3 separate regions of the Homo sapiens genome follow, and regions 2 and 3 are each linked to region 1. Evidence: fine-mapped expression QTL. A gene starts in region 1. Each other region holds a variant in brackets. All regions are shown on one strand. Distances are from middle to middle. Region 1 holds the start of PYROXD1 (pyridine nucleotide-disulphide oxidoreductase domain 1). Region 2 overlaps PYROXD1 (pyridine nucleotide-disulphide oxidoreductase domain 1). Region 3 overlaps GYS2 (glycogen synthase 2).

Evidence for each region. PIP is the estimated chance that this variant, and not a neighbour inherited with it, causes the effect. A credible set is the group of variants that fine-mapping cannot tell apart.
Region 2: its variant is the best candidate, but not a certain one, in a credible set for the expression of PYROXD1 in whole blood (TOPMed, PIP 0.84).
Region 3: its variant is the best candidate, but not a certain one, in a credible set for the expression of PYROXD1 in monocytes (BLUEPRINT, PIP 0.58).

The regions. Positions count from the first base shown.
Region 1 is chr12:21,428,767-21,439,731 of GRCh38, forward strand. PYROXD1 (pyridine nucleotide-disulphide oxidoreductase domain 1) reads left to right here and starts at 8,889. Exons shown (of 12, transcript NM_024854.5): 1 at 8,889-9,048. The coding sequence starts at 8,965. RefSeq lists enhancers at 8,718-8,797, 8,848-9,037.
Region 2 is chr12:21,468,923-21,474,211 of GRCh38, forward strand. PYROXD1 (pyridine nucleotide-disulphide oxidoreductase domain 1) reads left to right here. Exons shown (of 12, transcript NM_024854.5): 12 at 1-2,328. It overlaps RECQL (RecQ like helicase), which reads right to left. Exons shown (of 15, transcript NM_002907.4): 12 at 4,629-4,720; 13 at 2,506-2,725; 14 at 2,047-2,176; 15 at 1-1,424. The coding sequence ends at 1,272. Among named protein-coding and RNA genes, the nearest start is that of RECQL, 30 kb to the right of the region's middle. The variant TA/T (reference allele first, on the strand shown) is at 2,838.
Region 3 is chr12:21,562,549-21,567,548 of GRCh38, forward strand. GYS2 (glycogen synthase 2) reads right to left here. Exons shown (of 16, transcript NM_021957.4): 6 at 680-797; 7 at 370-490. Among named protein-coding and RNA genes, the nearest start is that of SPX, 39 kb to the left of the region's middle. The variant AATAT/A (reference allele first, on the strand shown) is at 2,842.

The DNA.
Region 1 (10,965 bases):
CATTGTTAGCATAAATAAACTGAGTAAAGATATTTTGACAGCTAAAACTTTAAAATCTCATGTAAACTTGAATATATTTTCAAAATTAAAAGGGAAAATTTACTTAAATGTTCATATACATATGTTTGGGGTTAGTTTAAACTTAAAAAAATTAATGTGTACTGCAATAATATTTGAAACAACAAATGTGTTTCATTTTTCTTTCTAAAAGAAGTAAAATTAAGAGATAAAAAATCTTTAATTTCGGTACTGTCCGTCAACTGAAATAAATTAGCCACATTCGATACCATAATTTAACATTTTACTCATTACGAATAAATTATGCTGTACTTTCTTTGCATCTTAATTTATTTTTTAGAAATCACAAGTTATTTTAATCAACAAAAATAGGAGTAGAAAGTGTTGCTTCTTCCTTTTTCTTTAGTATAATAACTAGCCTGAAAACAGTTTTTTTTTTTTTTAATTTTTTTTGAGACAGGGTCTCACTCTGTCACCTAAGCTGGAGTGAAATGGTACAATCATAGCTCACTGCAGCCTTGCCCTCCTGGGCTAAGGTGATCCTCCCATCTCAGCTTCTGGAGTAGCTGAGACCACAGGCATGCACCACCATGCCTGGCTAATTTTGTGTTTTTTATAGAGACGAACTTTTGCCATATTGCCGAGTTTGGTCTCAAACTCCTGGACTCAAGCGATCCACCAGTCTCAGCCTCCCTCCCAAAGTGTTGAAATTACAGGTGTGAACCACCATATCTGGCCTGATTTTATTTAATTATGAAAAAAAAATCTGAATTTCCCTGATCTTCAATGTAACTGATGTTAAAATGTTACCTGATGTATTAAATAGAAAATAATTAAGCCTCAGATCATTAAATAATAATTCTTTCAACTGCTGTCACAATTATTTTATATATGGAAATCATAGCAATTAATGAATGAATGCCATGAAACATAAGTACTAATGTTTTATTCAAAAACAGCATGAAAGTTATAAATCTATTTCTTTATAAAGGATACAGAAAAGTACATGCAAATTATACTATTTCGTACTATGAAGGACATCTTTTAGAAGTTTTCATCATGATTCAAAAGTTATAGAAACGAGGTGCGGATAATAAAAAAGGTTTTATATTTGGCTTTGGAATTTGTGTACTTACAACTTAATAAGAGTATTTCCTGTTGATATGGTTTGAAACTTAAATTGAAATATGAAGCTCCATGGTACCGCTTGTGAAGAGCTTAGAAATTTTATAAACCGAGTAAACAGCATTGGAAACCCAGCAGGAAAGCCTCTTATTGTAATAAAGAGCCTGATTCCATTGTTGATGTTTGACTGCTGGAAGCTTTCAGGCCTCACGACTCCCCTGTCCCTTGCTGCCCCACATCTGGGCAGTCTGAGAAGGTTTCAGTATGCCCCTCCCTTGGTGCCCACGTGATTTTCAAGCCATACAAGGACTGGCCTGTATGTGCCAGAACTCTCACCCCAGCTCGATCACCTAATCTCATTAAAAACAGGGCCTGTCACCCTTCTCTGCTCTCCAAGCTATTTTTGGATCAGCTTATAATCCTGTCCTATTCTCCCCAGAAAGCCTCATTATGTAAGTAATAAGCCTTTTCATTCCCTCATGGGGTGAGTGTGTGTGTGTGTGTGTGTGTGTGTGTGTATGTGTGTGTGATCATTAATCTTCACATCCAAATCAAATTTTGGATGGGGGTTCCTTCCTGATACTGTGAGTTCCTTCCTGATACTGTGGGGTGACTGTAACATTTATCTACCTAGAACAACAGAACAACCTGGTCTCAAAATATCATATCAAACTATTGAGAAAGGAACAGCAGTATCTCATAAGGCAAATTCATGTTTCACAATTGTAGATTCAGCCATACTATGAAGCCTCGGTCTTTATAAGATTGTGCTTACTATGTTAATTATAAAGACTTAAGAAACATTTATTGAATAAATATTACTTAAATTGCTGTGCTAAGTGCTGGGATTAGGGCCACAAGCAAGAAAATCAAAGGTGAATAAAATACATTCCCTTTCTCAAAGAAGCCTAATAAGGACACACCAACTTTAACACAAGAAACACTGCTCAATGCAGTAAAGTACTACAGATTTGGCCATTTCTCCCTGAGAATGGTGGGTGGCATCTGAGCTTACCATTCTTAGACCCATAGATTTCTATAGGCAGAGCAAGAAAGCCTGTAATGAAGGAAACCAAAATTCTTTTTTTTTTTTTTTTTTTGAGACAAGGTTTTACCCTTTCTCTCAGGCTGGAGAGCAGTGGTGCGATCAAGGCTCACTGCAGCCTCAACCTCCCCAGTCCCAGGTGATCCTTCTACCTCAGCCTCTGGAGTAGCTAGGACCACAGGTACTTGCCACCATGCCCAGCTAATTTTTGTATTTTTTGTAGAGATGAGGTTTGGTCATGTGGCCCAGGCTGGTCTTGAACTTCTGGGCTCAGGCGATCTGTCCACCTCAGCCTCTCAAAGTCCCGGGATTACAGGCGTGAGCAACCAAGCCCTGCCTGAGACAAGAATTTTTGATGCATTCAGGGAACTGGGAATGTTCCAGAAGCAGAAGTGGTAGAAAGGCAGAGGAACCACATCTCCCTTTTATAAGATAACTCTTACGGCAGCATGGAGGATAAGTTTAAAGACAGTGAATGGAGGAACAAAGACCAATCAGGAACTCATTTTAATAGTCTAAGTGGGCGAAGAAGACCAAAAATAGCGCAGTAACAGTCAAAACTGAAATGAAGGAACTGGGAAACACTTTAGAATTGGTAGGACTTGAGAAACTACACTTTGAAGTTGAGGGAATATGGTGTAAGAAATGCATTCAGTTTTCTAAATGGTATAAGTTTAATATTTATAAAACAAACATGGTATATCATGGGGTTAAATGTGATTTTTCTGGTTAATTCAGCTCCAAAAGCTTAAGAACAGTATAATAGGCGTCAAGTTGACCAATGCCTTCAACGCAAGGTACTAGACCACACAGGCAACGCGTGCTAAAAGACTATAAAATTGGTTTTGCCAGCATTAGTGCATCACATTCACTCCCTGCTCCAACATGCTCACGAAGCATATGGGGAAGAGGAAGGGAAAGTGTTTCACCCCACCACCACCAATGCCCTGTCCGCAGCACAAGTGAGGAGGACGTTAAGGGAACCATTTAGAGAGCTTTACAGGTAGCCCCTGGAGTCCGAATGATGCAGAAACTGATACTTCATTCCACTGAAGACACAGAGGTGTGACTAGGTAGACATTCGGACAGCAGAAAAGAGAGATGCTCTGTTGGCTTGATGTGCACTTTCAGAGTCTAGTGGGGACAAAGGATGAGTGAGTTTCCCAGAAGCCCATTGTGGACCCTGTTTCATCTTAAAAGGGACTGAATCTGGAGAAGGAAAGGCCCAGAACCTGTAGGTGAGAGATCCCCAGTGATGTGGAGATTCTGATGTACCCATAAAAGCACCCCAGCAGAGAATCAACATTTGGAATCAGCCACACCATGAAAACAGCGATGCTAGATTATAACTAATGTTTGTGCCGGCAAATGTTGAACAACTGGCTGTCTGAAAAAACTGCATGTATAAATATATGTGTGTGTGTGTATGTATATATACATAGGTTTATTATAAATTTTATTGAAAGGTGTATAGCAAATATTTTACAAATAATAATATGCAATACTCTTTATTGTAAATTCCATATAGCCAGCTGATTCTACAGAATCCTTTCATTGATTTTTGCTTGTATTACCCAAACTATGACAGCAATTGATGAGTGTAGTTTGAATGTTGATTGACTTTTCTATTTACATTAACTAGTAAGATGGAAGTGAAACAAAGGAACAATAGGTTGCAATTTCACTTGTTTGTCTGATATTAGTGAGTTCTTTGCTAAATTGAATAGCAGCTCTCTGAAAAAAGAATTTCTTCAGTTTTTTTGTGCTATTCACAGTGTACTACAATCTACCACAACAGACATGACACTCTTTTAATTTCATTATTAACATTCTCTCCATCAGTTTTTTTAAATGAGTCTCCATCTATTTTGTGTTTCTTTAACTTTTAAGTTCAGGGGTACATGTACAGGATGTGAAGGTTTGTTACATAGGTAAACATGTGTCATGGGGGGTTTGTTGTACTGATTATTTCATCACCCAGGTATTAAGCCCAGTATCCATTAATTACTTTTCCTGATCCTCTCCCTCCTCCTACCTCCACCCTCAGACAGGCCCAGTGTGTGATGTTTCCCTCTGTGTGTCCATGCTGTTCTCATCATTTAGCTCCCACTTATAAGTGAGAACATACGGTATTTGGTTTTCTGTTCCTGTGTTAGTTTGCTAAGGATAATGGCCTCCAGCTCCATCCATGTCAGTGTAAAGGGCATAATTTGATTCCTTTTTATGGCTGCATAGTATTCCATGGTGTATATGTACCACATTGTCTTTATCCAGTCTATCATTGATGGGCATTTGGGTTGATCCCATGTCTTTGCTATTGTCCACCACCTTTTTAACTCTAAAAAATCAACAATAAAATAAATCAAACTCTGGTTTGTATAATCTGCCATTTTCCATGGTGTAAATACTCCTATTACGGCCAATTTCAAGATCAACATGACGTCGCTGAATGAGGCAGTAGGAAGAAATGTATAGTAGCCCACCATTATATTTTTACCTGTAGATACAATAGATGTAAATAACCTCAAGAGTAGAGATAATAGCAAAAGAGTTAGGAAATAAGAAGTTTTGAATATTTATTACCTTTGTCTTAATATAACTTATTTGATTATGTTTATACAATTTAGTGTTTAACAATAGCTGTGTTAACAATCAGCTCACACAAATCCTAAAATTTTAACAATCAGCTCTCACAGATTCACAGTTGTACCACACCACTGATTCATAGATATAGGAAGACAGCCTGCGGTATGGCAAGAATGACACCACGGCCATGATGACTGATGTTGGATTCCTGCATACTAAGGTGTTCTGCAGCAAGGTCCTTAAACAATGCCCATAGCATAGATAACCCTTCAAAAGAAACAAAGCTTGTAACTTAGATAATTCTCTCATTAAGATTCTTATCTAGACTCCCCAGTGTTCATGAGTTTTGCAAGAAAGTCTGAGACATGATCAGCTGTACATCTTTTATCCTAAAAGCTTACATAATTTCTGGAGGGCAGGTGTGGGGATGCACTGTAACAGAATCATCATTTCTGTGTGTAAGTCCCTATTAAATACCTCTTTCTGAGAAACTGGATTTGTCAGTTTTTCTTTGGCCTCTCAGCTCTCTCAGCCTTTGGGGGTAGGTTTGCATATATATGCTCATACAGGAACAACAGTGAGGCTCTTTCCTCTCCTTACTCCTTACCCACCCTCCAATCTTAAAGCCCCTGAAAACATCAGCTCTTAGTTAGGAGAAGAGCTGGAGCAAAAAAGCAACAAGAAATCAATTTGCGTTGCCTGTAGTTAGGTGAGGCTTTAATTGGATGCGTGTCTGGAGTTTTGATAATAGGTAGTACCAGACTTTTTATTACCTGAGAATGATCAGATAAGCTAAATTAATAAGAATTTAGAGGAGAAAAATACATTCACAGGAAAAGCGTTGAGAAATAAAAATGTTTGCTTTAATTTCTTCCCTATAAAGTCCAGCTTGTTCAGTAAATCAGTTATATGAACTAACAAAACAAAGAAGAGGTTTCGAGTGCAAGATGAATCCAGGCTGTACTTACAGCGAATTGGCAAAAACCAAGATAAAAATGAGAAGATATCCAAGATGTTTCAGAAATTTCAGGCTTGAAGATTCAGAGTAGATTGCATGAGAGATAGACATTTGGGAGTTAAAAGCATAATAGGCTTGTTAAGGTTATGATCATAGATAAAATCCTTTAGACAGAGAAACATAGTCTATTCAACAGGGCACAGGCAGGCAACTTAACCATTAATCCTACTAAGAGGCACGCACTATGCTAGGAAGTTTAAATATGTTGCCTCACACATGCATCAAAACAACTCTACAAAGTAGATCTTATACCCGTCTTGCCAATGAGGAAACTAGGGTTCAGATGAGGTAAATAACTCACTGAATGGTCACACAACAAAGAAATGCTGGTGCCACATTTGAACCTAGGTCATCTGACTCAAAAGCTATTAATCACCAACTATGAAATGTCATTATTCATTCCCAATTTTTGCAGTTGAAAATTAACCTCAATACTCCTATTCTAGGCATTTCTGATATCAACTTGAAGAAGAATGGAAGACTAGATTTTGATGGTAGTTTGAAAGTTGGGGATGGCCTTCAAGAGATTAGGTGGGTATGGGAATCAGATGTAACAACATTATGGAGAGAAATAGAAGAAGATAGCTTTATCTCCTTCAGTTTTTCCACATGAATCTTGAACTCCCCAACCACTTTTCTTTCTTTCTTCCCTTTTACCATCTCCTGTATTTCCCATGCTCATTCCTGCTGCTAAGCCTTTGGTTCTTGGGATATTTCCCACATGACTTGCCACATCTTCTTCTGAACCTATCCAAATGCTATGGGCCTTTGAGATTCAATATAAATTCCACTTCTTCTCTGAACCTTTCTTTGCCAAGTCCTGCTTTTCTTTTCCACCCATAAACATACACCATAATATTTAGCAATACACTGGTATTTCTTTGACTCCTCAGAAACAGTCACCAGGTCACTCCTAAGCTTGCTGACCAGAGCTAAAGGGGAGCTGAAGTTCTGTCTTTTCTGCTTCTCTGCTGCTTCCTGGCATTGGGCCTCCCTTATTTCTAGGTGCCCAGTTTTCTTTGCAGTTGCCCTTTCTCCTAACCTGTACCTATTGCTGCCCTCCCTGTGGATAACATGTTTCAAGTTACCTACATCTTACTTTTAACCCACTTTACATCCAGTATATGTATCTAATTTAATCAACATTAAGGTGAGATGCACTGAAAGTTCTTTAACCCTTAGACATTTCTAAAAGTTGGATATTCATGCCAGTGTGGCAGGCAGCTAGGTCTTATCCCTACATCACCTTTGACAAAAAAGCCAGCCTTCACAAGGGGAAGAAAAAAGGAGAGTGTGGAGTCATTACCCCTTTACATTTGAGGAGCCTCCTACTACTTTGCTTCCCCTCCCACAGACGATGATCTCCTTCCGTTTCCCCTGGGAGCTTAAATTCCACTCCATTCTTCCTTCCGACTTCCATAAAGAGGAAACCCCTGTCACAATATACAAGAGGATCCTGACCCTGGACAATGAATCTAAAAATCTTTAGAAGGACTTCAGGGGAGTTTCATGCTCCACCAACTTCCTATTTCGTTGAGCACATTTTTGTTGAATACATACTCCCTACTAAACATTGGAGATACAAAGGGAGACAAAAATAATCCCTGAGATTATGTAAGCAGTTTATGGTGGTGGTGGGGTCAGGCAGTAAGAATTTACAATAAAGTGGGATAAGTCTAAATTTAGAGGATGACAAAGTGCTATAAGAACACACGGAGAGGACACCTAGCTGTCTTGAGGATGTTAGATAAAGTATCTTAAAGGGGAAGCAATGGCTTGATGAAACCAAAGGTTGATGAGTTAGCCAGGGAAAAGTAGTTGGGAAAAAGATATGTGCAAATGCTCAGAAAGAAAATGGCATATCCTGGGATCTGGAAGTGTAGTGTGGCCTGAATGGAACACAGTGTGAGTGAGATAATGTGAAAATAAGCTGAAGCAAGATGAGATCTAAATGGGCTTAAGGAATGTATTTCCTCCTCCTAGAAATGAATGCTTTGTTTGGTTGCTATACTAGTAACAGGAATTAGACACGTTTATTAAACCGCTTACCATTTAACTTGGTAAATCAAAGAACAATGATTTTTACAGGTATCAGTAAATGCCTGTAATTAGATACGTGGTAGGCTTTCCTGTTAATATATAATGGTTATTCTCAGTGTTTAAAGAATTAAAGGGACTCGGGTAATTACCAGTTTTAGAGTGAACCATTTGAGAGATAATACCTTACCATTACAAAACAACTCCTAGGGAAAGTTATATGAGACAGCAAAGGTAATAGTAAATAGTAAAATAATATGAATAGTGAATAATATAGTAAAAACAGTTAAAAATGATTTAGCAATTTCTTAAAAACAATTGACCACGAAAAAAATTCACAGTAAAACCGAGACTGGGAATATTTCATTCAACCCTCACACATGCTGCTATTGACTGGAAATTTAAGAAATGTTCATTTGTTTTGACAAAATGGAAAGCAACTGTACATTCTTCCTGGAAACTTTAGCTGAGGTCAAAGTTGTAAATGAAAAGGATGATTTTTTAGAGAACAATTCAGTAGTATTGTTTTGCCTTGTCATGAAGAATTTTTGTGCTTCCACAAACAAAAATCTTGGATTGTTAGGTGAACGGTGGCAATCAAGTGGTTTTCAGAAGACTCAAGTTTCTTCATCTACAAAAATGACAGGAGTGGGGTCAGGATGTTCCCGAAGGCTCCTTCTACTCATAAGAGCATAAAATCTGTGCCTCTAATTTCTCGCAGAAACAAATAATGAGAACTTCACACCAATTCATTTATTATATGAATGTTTTGTCCCGTGAGAACACTGGTCTATCTTTAGATATGTAATTTATCAAACTTCTTTGGGCAACCCATCTTCTTTACTTTTTTATTTTTAATTTTTTGGTTTTCTCTTTGTCAAATTTTCATGGAATAACTACATTCAGGTGTAGTAATAGTAACGCAAAGCTCTGAACACCACGAGACAATTCGTTGCTTCCGAAACGCAGCCGGCAGCAGGTACTCGAGATGAGTAGTGTGAGCTCCCGAGCACCCGTAGGTCGGATTATCTGGTAAGGCACCGGAAGTGACCGCCTCGCGGCTGCTTCCTCTCCTGGAGTCCAGAGTCCCGTTGCTCCGCCGCGATATTCAGTAAACCACTGGGAGTCCGGCAGCATGGAGGCAGCGCGCCCTCCCCCGACGGCAGGGAAGTTCGTGGTGGTCGGCGGCGGCATCGCGGGCGTCACTTGTGCGGAGCAGGTAGGGCGGTGCTCAGGCGGTTCCGCCTCTTTCCCCGACCCCAAAGGGGATAGCACTGGAGGCCTTCCTCCCACCCCCTCCCTTTTTCTTCTTCCGGGTTCCTTTTTTGCTGCGCCCTTTTCCGCACTTATTGCTCCCAGATTTTAGAAACTGCTTGGTGGTCCTCAGATGACCTCACTAGCTTTCTCTTAGGCGCAGGGAGGAGTGGGAGGCAAATTATAGCCGAGAAACCAAAGCTGGCTGATCCGTGCTCAGATCCTTGTAATGTCAGAGCAGACATGAGGACTTTGTATTTAGACAAAAAATTCAGCCCCCTTTCTTTTTATTTTTTTTTCTTTTTCTTTGAGACGGAGTCTCACTCTGTCGCCCAGACTGGAGGGCAGTGGTGCGATCTTGGCTTAATGCAAGCTTTGCCTCCCGGGTTCAAGCGATTCTTCTGTTGCGTCAGCCTGTAGCTGGGATTACAGGCGCCAGCCACCACGCCCCGCTAATGTTTGTATTTTTAGTAGAGACGGGCTTTCACCATGTTGGCCAGGCTGGTCTCGAACTCCTGGGCTCAAGCAGTCTGCCCGCTTCCGCCTACCGAAGTGCTGGCATTACAGGCCTGAGCCACAGCACCCGGCCCTCAGCCCCCTTTGTTAATTATCGTAGGTGATTGAGTTTAGTTTCCAGATAGTTGCCAAGTCTTTAGTGCATCTTAACTAATTAATAAAGAATCCCATATGTAAGTTTTCTATACTTCGAACTCCCAAGATAGAAGAAACTTTATTTCTAGTAAAGTTTTGTAAAATAATCAGCGAAGGATTAAATGCATGTAGGGCTTGCTTTCTTGATTATACTGAATAGCCAGACCATATATATTCAGATACATGTGTGTATTCCAAAAAGTTCTACATTATTTTGTTGATATAAAGTAAACATGAGCAATCACTGAAGTCATAAGAAATAGTGGAAGAAACTCAAGTGTTTCCATCGTTGGATGCGTATTTTCCGTTTATTCACTAAGTAAACATATATGATGCAGGCACCGTATTAAGGGCTGAGTGTTCAACTATGAACAGCATGGTATATACCATGCTGGGGACTCACAGCCTGCTGGAAGAGACAATATTACAATATTGTATGTCTATGCAAGAGATATCAACGGTTATCTTAGAGGTGCCTGTGGAGTATGTAGGGAGTGAATTAGGGAAGAGGAAATTTTTTTAATCAAAGAAGGTATTTTTAAAATCTCATTATGAAAGAATGAGTGAAAGTTTACCAAGTATTCAAGAAAAGAATGTCATCTCCAGTGGAAAAGCATGGATCATCAGGGAGCAGTAAAGCTTAAAGCATAGATCATAAGGAGTCTTAGCATGCTGAGAACTTAACAAGAATTTACAAGTAGTCAAATGTTTTTGAGCAGTGGAGTAACTTGATCATATGAAAAGGCTTGAAAGATGATTAGTTACAATGTATTTGTGGCAGAGGCAGCTGGTTTATACGTGAAACTGGAGAGCCAATTCGAAGGTGATTTCAGTAGTATAAAGAAGTTTTGAGGACCTCATCTAGCAATGGAAACAGCAGAGATATAAATTACAGAATATACAGAGGAAAGAAAGATGGAGAGAGTAATGATATTGTCAAATATAGAAAGTTCAAATAAAATGAGACTGAGAAGAATCGCATGGGTGTTGGGCACGATAGCTCACACTTGTAATCTTAGAACTTTGGGAGGCCAAGGTGGGAGGATTGCATGAGTCCAGGAGTTTGAAGCCAGACTGGGCAACATGGCAAGATCCCATCTCCATTAAAAAAAAAATAAATAATCCCTTGGATTTTAAGGATTCATAGATCCCTCAAACATGCTGTTTTAGTGATGGAGTAGGAATAGAAGCCAGATTATTGAGGGTGGTGGTGTCGAGGAACCAGACTTTG
Region 2 (5,289 bases), 37 kb after region 1:
AGTTCAAAGTTTATTTATAGATATATCTTTCCAATACAACACTGACCGCTTAGATAAAAATCTTAAGTTATTTATTTCTGTGTTTTAAACATAAATATGTTTACTTGTGATTTAGCTTTGGAGCAAATTTAGGTAAGTTATCTACTTAGCCAAATGTACTCTAGTAGACTAGAACCATTCTTTGTGAAATGTCAAAATATGGCTATGGTTTCAGGAACTTTAAAATCGGTTGTATTTTACTTTAAATAGAGATGTAGCAATATCTCGTTTGCTAATATTTATATTGATGACTTACTCCTTTTTTGTTGAATTGTACTTCTGGTTTTATAACCTGAAATCATCTACAAGCTTGTCCAACTCTAGCCCACGGGTCTAATGCAGCCCAGAACAGCTTTGAATGCAGCCCAACACAAATCTGTAAACTTTCTTAAAACATGAGATTTTTCTTGCAATTTTTTTTTTTTTAAGCTCATCAGCTATCGTCAGTGTTAGCATATTTTATGTGCGGCCCAAGACAATTCTTCTTCCAATGTGGCTCAGGGAAGCCAAAAGATTGGACATCCCTGATCTACATATTTAACTTAAAGTATCACTCAGTGAACCTCTGTCAGTATAATATTGCTTTCAAAAAGATGGTTATGTCAAAAGAAAAAATATAGCTAAGTATATAAAGGCATAAAAAACTTAAGACAATTACATGAACTTATTCTCAAATATTTTACATTTTTTGTAAACTTTCTTAAAACATGAGATTTTTCTTGCAATTTTTTTTTTAAGCTCATCAGCTATCATCAGTGTTAGCATATTTTATGTGCGGCCCAAGACAATTCTTCTTCCAATGTGGCTCAGGGAAGCCAAAAGATTGGACATCCTTGATCTACATATTTAACTTAAAGTATCACTCAGTGAGCCTCTGTCAGTATAATATTGCTTTCAAAAAGATAGTTATGTCAAAAGAAAAAATATAGCTAAGTATATAAAGGCATAAAAAACTTAAGACGATTGTATGAACTTATTCTCAAATATTTTACATTTAAAGGGTTTTACATAAAAATTTTTCCCTTGTTTTATACTGGAAAATTATATAATTCATGATCTCTAATTTTCAAACATTCTCAAAAGTTTAGATCTTCAGAGATAAGCTCTGAAAATATAGATCCATACATATAAAATATCTATGAAATTCTTTTAAAAACTATTGTCTAACTACAAAAATAATGGCATATACATGCATAAACCATCTTTAATTAGAAAATTTAGTAACATTCATATCAGGCATCATCGATTTTTCTTTTCTTAGCTCCTGTATTCTTAGAACCAGATTGCTGAAGCATGTTTGCAGCCTTCTTCTGGAAGTTGCCTGAATTTTTTTCCTCCATCTTTTTATCACCTTGTTCAGAATGACAAGTTTGAGACGATTCAGCCTACAAAAAAAAAAAAAAAACAAAGCAAGCACCTTGGTAAAAATCCAGCTATTCAGTTTTCTCATGAGATTAAATATTTCAAAATATTCTTTCTGTATCAGTTGGCTTTTTAAGTATACAGGGGTCTAGTTTTTTATCTACAAATTTCTATTCAAATATGAGCTCTATTTTGAATAAAAGGGGCTACGTTGTGAGAGAAGTTCTAAAGACCTCAAATGTCCTTAGACACAATGGCACTTGACTTGACATGCTTTTGCAGACTTGATAGTATTTGGTTTAAAACAGTGGTTTCTAACCACTGGAACAGCAGAAACAGACTTCTCAACTATTAGTAATCACAACCAAATAAGAGCAGAGTGCATAACAAAATTAGATATTCAAACGGAGTCCTCCCATTCCAAGAAACTGGAAACCCCTAGTTTATGTTAAAAGGCCAGTCTAAATTCTTTCACTTACATCTTTACAGAAAACTATATTTTCTCTCTTCCATACCCAGAAATCTAATCAGAAAACTGACTTTTCTCATGTTCAACTGGACCTAGGGGAATATGACAGAAAAGCATCCCATAGGCTTTAATATACTTTTTAAAATATATAAAACTGAAAATTAATAGCCATTTACCCTGAAAGAGTTCTGCGTGGACTTTGTCACTTGCATAGTAATAGCATGTGCCTCATTGTTCAGAAGATTAGCTTTAGGTCCTATTTTCAAATACGAAATGGTAGCATAAGCTGTAAAACTGTAGTCTTCTCTGCAGAAAATAAAGGCCAACAATAAGAAAGCTTTTGAAGGAATCACGGAAAACAAATTTATAAAAGAAATAACTATATGCGCAGTAATTCTTAACACATTGACTTGAAATAATAAAATTTACAAGAATGCAAATAAAGCCTTTAAAGAAAATATTTTCGTTACTTTTTTTTATTTATAGTGATTAAAGTTTGAGTGTTTTAGGTAAATTACTTTCTATAGCATTTAAAAGTTCACACAAAATAACTGCAAAACCGTTTATTCTGTTGCAATTTTTAAAAAAAAACCATAAAGACAACCTGAAAGAATAATGAATGAGTTTGTACATACTTAAGATACTGCTGTATTAGAAAGTGTGCAATAATCTTCTCCAGATCTTCACGAGGAAGTGTGGGAGCCACAACACCTGCTACTCTCAGTTTTGCTGCACCCTTTCCCATCCAAGAATCAATCAGTTTCAATGGAGTGAGTTTTTCATTCAGTTCCTCTGCCTGCTTCAGGATCTTGATTAGATCTCTGCAGTACTCTGTTATGTTCTTTCTTTCAAATGCTGTAATAAAACAAATATGGTAGCAGGTAATTAGGATTTAGAAATGAGGGCAAAGATAGGCTATCTTAAGTAGTTAAACTGGTTTAAAGCTGGTTATCAATGTGAGCCACCC[TA/T]AACATTGATTTTTAAATGTATTCTGAATTAAGACTAGGCTATTCCTCAAGTCTCTGTCACTAGACCAAGTTATGGTCTCTGTAAGCATTGTGGGGTTTACAGTGATATATATAAAAAAAAATTGGTTATCAGAAGCCCTGCCATATACTCTAGAAATCAGAAAGTGTCTGCCAGACATGATTACTAAGTTACTAAGAGGTGTGTTTTATAGGAGACCCTGTCTGTTCTAGTATAGGCTCCTGAGTGAACTCTGATTTAGCAACAAGAATGTCCTCAACTGATAACCCAATTATTAAGAGACCAGTACTCTGATTTATATATAACACTCTTGTTATTTTATAAGATAGTCTAATAAACTCATAAATTTCTCTGTCTGCAAAGTTAAAAATACAGTGGCTTCCACCTAACAAGGCATCAGAACTCAGTAAGGTCTTACCATGAGGTACTGGCTAGTCCAGATCTTGAAATACAACACACGGATGAAAAAAAGTTAAAATATAGTGCCAAAATGCTGCAGGCAAATCCGAAAATTGGGACTCAGCCCAGGAGGGTTCCCAGTTTCATGCAAGAAACAATCTGAGAGCAAGCCAACAGAGTAAAGTGAAAGCAAAGCAAGTTTATTAGCAATAGAGTATAGGAAAATGGCGGCTCCATAGACAGAGCAGGGCTACCCCAAAGGCAGAGTGGCACTGTACATTGCTCACTAGCGGTATTTATAGCTGCTCCTTAGTTATATGCTAAATAAGGGGAAGATTATTCATGAATCTTCTAGAAAAGGTTAGGGAGTTCCTAGAACCATGTAATTTTCGGGCATTGTCACGGCATTTGTAAACTGTCATGGTGCTAGTGGGAGTGTCTTACATCATGCAAATACATTATATTTTCTAGTTCTAACTTGTTTGGGCCAGTTTCTTTGCTATATCTTGTTTTGACCAGATCCTGTTTTGATCAGCAGGGTTGTGACCAATGCTCAGAAAACAAATCCTGCTGATCTACATTTAAAAGAATTTTAAGTAAATCTCCGATGACTAGCCATTAACTGGATCAAAAGTGATTCTCTATAGTCTCTATTTTGCACTAAATTTTCTTTTCAATTAGTGACTATAAAGTATTAGAGATTATCACATGGTTTCCCTTTTCTTATAGAATAGCATTTCTATTCAGAAAAATTCAAATATTTTCCTTCATTTATTAAAAATTTCACATCCTCAGTATAGCAATATAAAATGTGTGCATACACATAAGACTTTTCCTTTTATTCACCTTTGTTTCAAAACTTCATGTTGATAGTTTTAATTCTGGAAAATCTGATTCACACTTTAATCTTTTAAATCCATTTGGAAGTCTAATACTTCTCTCATGTCCCAGCTGTATATACAGTTTTGTGCCACATAATATTTTGGTCGGTGATGGACCACGTATATGCCAGTGGTCCCAAGAGATTATATAATACCATATATTTTTTTTTGAGACGGAGTCTCGCTGTCACCCAGGTTATAATACCATATTTTTACTGTACTTACTCTATGTTTAGATACACAAATACTTAACCATGTGTTACAGCTGCCTGCAGTATGCAGTACAGTAACACGCTGTACAGATTGGTAGCCTAGGATCAATAGGCTATAACATATCACCTAGGAGACTATACCATCTAGGTTTATGTAAGTACACTTTGATGTTTGCACAATGACAAAATCACCTAGTGATGCATTTCTCAGAACGTATCTCTGTCACTAGGCATTATGACTGTATTAGCCTATAAAGGTTTACAAAACAACAAACTCACCACTGTCTTTACAGCAGTTATCGCACATTTTGTTACATGCTTCTGAGTTCCATACTTCATCAAAATGTTGAGCCATCAACACACGACGACATCTGCAAACACATTTAAAGATACAAATTATTAAAGGATATAATAAAGTTTTAAGAATCTCTATTTCAGCTTACATAGTTATATACTGTATTAGCTTCCTATAACTGCCATAATATTACCATAAACTTAGTGGCTTTAAACACATTTATTCTTACATTTCTGTGGTTTAGATTTAGAAGTGTACTATGGGTTTCACTGGATCAAAATCAGAGTGTCAGGTTCTTCTCACATCACACAATCTAAAATAATCTCCCTATTTTAAGGTCAGCTAATGAACAGTCTTAATTCCATGTGCAATGCTACTTTCCTTTTGCCATGTGAGGTAACATACAGGTTAGGAATTAGGACGTGAACATCTTTGGGGGGCCATTGTGCCCCCGACATAGGACTTTTTTCCCCACATATTCTTGATAAACACTGTTTAAAAAATTGTCTGAGTTCCATTTTTAAATTCAATGTTTTGCAACTATTAGGAGAATATTCTTGACAGTAAAATAGTTTCTTATATTTTAATAAAGTAGCAATATTTGAGTTGAAACCTTAAAATATGCTTCATGAGACTCTACTGGCC
Region 3 (5,000 bases), 130 kb after region 1:
TGCATTTACTGGATTTCTCTATATTTACTTTTCAATTGATTACAAACTCATGTGAGGGAAAAGGGATGTTATAATGACTTATTAAAACATAGAAGGGGAGAATGGGATAAGCTTAATGAGACATATAATGGGATAAGCTTAAGATTCTCCAAAAAAAAAAAAAAAAAAAAAAAGATGACATTATAGACAAACACACAAGTCAACAGTGTGGTAACTCCAATATGTAAATTGAAAGGCTGAAGCCATTTTTAGAATACGATTATCGTTTATTCTCTTGAAAACTATTTAAGAAGCCAAAAAATTCTTCACTTCCCACAGAAGAAAGTTCTCCCTACAAGAGTGTTATACCATGTCCTAGAGCTTTCTTACCCTCAGCAGGAAATTTAGCCTGGATAAGGATTCTAGGAAGATGTCAGCTCCTTTGTTTGAAAACTCATACCTCCCAGCAATGAAAAGGAACAAAGTCTTTTCAAGATCAAAGTCGAGATGACTAAAACAAAACAAAACCAAACAGTTTCAAATGAAATACAGCAACAGTAACAAAATGTACACATGAATTCTGTTAATGTACAAAGGGGGCTGGGAAAGATAAACATTTATTATTACAATTCTGTTTTCTCTCTACCAAAGATCACTCATATCTGATACTTCTTTTTCTTTTTAATAAAGAAAATCATACCCATAGAAATGACCTCGAACAAAATCTTGGATTCTGGCCTTGTACATGGCATGTAGATTTTGAAACTCATGCACTGCTGAAAATTTCTTAACATTCAAGCCGTTTGGAGTAACTACATCTAGAAAGGCAAAACAAAATTATTATGAAAATTCTCTTTTCAAAGAGGGTACCATTGTAGAAAAAAGTATCTTTAAAACTATAAAGTTAGATGTTTATTGACATTCTACTTTCTGACTACCATAAAATTTAAAATTTATAAAACTTCCAGTTCATAAAAAATTCATAAAAATTCGCAACAAATTTGGTCTACTGATTGAAATAGGAAATCAGAAATGCCTGACCAAAATAACAATGAAGCACTGGTACAATGAAACAAGTTAATCAATAACAATAATAATGGTTATTATAGTACTCATTTATTGATTATTTAATGTGTACCAGGTGTTGCTCTAAAGGCTTAGAGTGTAACTCAATCTCTTCAACAAACCAAGGGAGTGAGTGCTCTTATCTGCATTTTCAGAGGTGGAAACTCAGGCACAGAGTTGTTTAAAGACGCCGTCCAAGAACACACAGCTGGTAAGTCGAAGCAGAATCCATGCAGTCTGACCCCACATACTGTTTCCTTAACCCTGCACTAAACTACCTCCTGCCATCTTGTTTTCCACAAGTGTATGGGACACCTTTTGTGCATTTGGAAAATTGGAAAAGGAAACCTCTTACTTCTAATTTCTATTCTTATTTCCATCTCTTATTTCTAACACAACTGATTCATTCTTCCCAGGAGATTTTGTTGCTCAGGCAGGAAGACATTCTTGGTTTTCAAAACATTGGTCTGTGACAAGAAAGAGAGGGACCACTCTGAGCATATGACGGAAACTACCTACTGAGTTGAATACATGGGTTATCAGATTTAGCAGCATAAAGCAAAAACAAGAAAAAAGAAGCTATGTTAAAAAAAAATGTGGCATAGGGCTATGAAGATTTTTGTAATTTTAAGAATCTTTTCCAGCCTGGCCAACATGGTGAAACCCCATCTCTACTAAAAATACAAAAATTAGTCAGGCATGGTGGTGTGCGCCTGTAGTCCCAGCTACTGGGGAGGCTGAGCCAGGAGAATTGCTTCAACCCAGGAGGTGGAGGTTGCAGTGAGCTGAAATCACGCCACTGCACTTCAGCCTGGGTGACAGAGTGAGACTCCATCTCAAAAGAAAAAAAAAAAGAATCTTTTACAGTTAACTGGCTATTTTCTTGACATGGTTCCACAAAATCAATCCAGGCTTTTTGGTCATTTTTTGTGGAAAATAAAAACTTACTGATTTTTATGAGTTTTTATTAAGTAATCTGACCTTTGTTACACTCTTTTACATACATGGCCACAGTAGAATCAATTTTAAGTAGCCAAGGTTTCCAGTGAAAGCTTTCATGTGAATAATTCCTAAATGAACTATATAATGTGATTCGTACAGTATGACAATTACATCTTAAAATGTATTTATCTTTCTACAGCAATTATGTAGGGCTCACTTTGTGCCAGGCCCTATTATATTTGATATATAATAATTTTTAAAAATCCCTATGAGGTAAATTGTTTTCACTGTCCCCATTTTACAAATAACGAAACTGGCCTGCAGAATATTAAGTCATTTGCCCAATGTCAAGTAAGCACAAAGTAACAGAGGCTGGATTTAGAACCAAAGCAGCCTGGCTCAGGAGTTTCCACCCTTTTGATGCAGTGGTGTCATACAACTGTACCATACAAAAGCTATAGAAGGCAAGAATGTATGTGGATACCAGCTTATTATGGATTGTAATCCTCAGCAGTTTTCCAAATTGTTTCACAAACAATTATAAAAAAAAGATCTGTGTCCTGAAATTGTCTGTTCATTAGCCTAAAGTGTTAGGCCAGTGAGGTCTTCTAATATCCATATTTATAACAGAATAATCTCACATGCACAGGCCTATGTGCAGTCATATGCTGGTAAAATTTAACAAAGAGTACTCCAGGAAAAAGAGAGAAAAAGAGAGAGAGAGATAGATAATTTTAGTGTTTGCCTTTCTCCAAGGTGTAAATATTCCCATCATGACTGATTTCAAGCTACCAATGTAAATGCAGAGTTGGGAAGAAAAGTGCAGTAACACCATTATACTATTTCCATCCATGA[AATAT/A]ATATATATATATATATATATATATATATATATATATATATGGATGTTACTGCACCATTATATAGGTTATAGGTTTTAGGTTATTTGTATGTAATGGTGCGCAGTAACATATAATGGTATTACTGCACTACTATATACAAATAACCTAAAATCATAGTAAAATGTAGTAAAATAACCAGGAAATGATGTTAAATTAGTTAAATTAATTTGATTAATTTAATTTAATTAGTTTATATAAATACATGTATTATTACATAATAAATTAGTGTATATAAGTTATATGCTCATATCATTTAAATTTTTAAAAAATCAAAATATTGACCTTGAAAAATCTCCTTTTCACTTCCGTTCCATAATTTTTTCCTTTCCCTGGAAGCAACATTGGTCACTAATTTCTTGCTATTGTTCCCAAGTAGAAGACAATGTTACCCACCTTTCTGATGTTAACAACGCCAACACAAAAGAAAAACGTTGACTAAAGGATGGTATTAGCTAGAGTTCATAGTAAGGTATTAGCATGGGCTCCAAAATCAATAATTGCAACACTATTAATGACTATATTAAAGGGAAAATGACAAATTTTTTTAAAGCAACATAAGATATTTAAGGCATATGTTGTATTCAGTTTTGTATCTGTAATTGGTAAATTTATCATACTGCCTTCTCTCCAATATTTTTAAGAAAATATCACCTTTTCAACATCTTAAACTATTTTGAGTCAAATTTATGGCAAAAGCATAATGATATAGTAATAAATATAAGCTTTTGCCAATTATTATTATATAGTGACATTTTGAAAAATATCTGGTCCCATGCATGTTTTTCACCCAGCCAATTTTCCTCTTGCTCTGTAGTTGCACCCTCAGCGTTAAAAGTAATGGCTGTAGTTAAACTTTTAATCGGGGAAGACTTCAAGAAAAATCAAGGAATACAAAGTCATAGTTACACTATGTGATCTTTTTTTTTTTTTCAGAATGCTCTTGGGAAGGTTTATATGTTTAATGATCTACTAAAAGTCCATTGACCTTCTTGAGCCACAAAATGTTCAGAGATTTCACAATTTCCATCAGAGCCACCACATGATTCTACTGCAAGTCTGAAGAAGCCCAGATTGCAGTGTTTATGGTTTCTGGTAGAACTTCCAGAGAAAGCTAGCTTGTGGGCACTCAGTAATAGATGAGAACTTGGGGAAAATCTAGACAGTGATCCACACAAAATAATAATCGATATTTTCTAAATCTTTACAATGTACCAGGCACTGAGCTGAGTTTTTTCCATATGTTAACGTTTGAATCATTGCAATGATTCTAGATAAGAGAAAGGATTATCCACATTATGCAGATAAGACACAGAGAGCTTAAGTAACTTTTATAATGTCACACAGCTAGTAACGTATACTCAACATAAAATCATTTTTGGTACTGAATACAGGCAGTTTGGCAAAAAGCTCATGCTTTGACCACTACTCTGTAGCTATATTCTTAAGAAAACAAAAATTTAAGAAAATAGTATATAGAGAAAGCAGGACCTAGAATAGAATCTTGGAGAATGTCCACTTTGAAAAGTAAAAGAAAGTAGAAAAATGATTAGAGGCACCAGAAAAGATTATACTGGAAAGAAAGTAGAATGTGCAGTGTCATGAAAAATAATGGAAACAGATGTTCACCGCCTTTAAATGCTAGAGAATATAAAGAAAAATAAAAAACATTAGATGACCCTGAATTCGATGATTTTTGGAAACACAATTTTAGGCCAGAGTTGGAGGTCGGAAGCCAGAGTCCCAGGGGCTAATGAGTAAGTGAACCTAGCAATTATGGTTTACTCTTATAAGATATTTGGCAGCAGGAGAAAGGAGGAGATGGTATGATATTTGGCAGGGTAGAAACCTCAAGAGAAATTTTCATTTTAGAATAGGCAAAAACAAAGAAAGTATTTTTGTGAGCTCAGAGAAAGATAACTGTAGACAGGAAAAAGGAAGATCCAAGAGAGAAATGAGCATATTGATGGAATAAACTCCCAAAAGAAGAATGAGAGTAAGAATCCAAGCGAATTCAAGAGAATCCTTGGAAAGAAAAAAGGCTACTATAGGTTCTTAATGCTGCCACTATTCAAATTAGTTGGGTTCTTGTTCTATCTTGTTTTTTTTTTTTTTTTT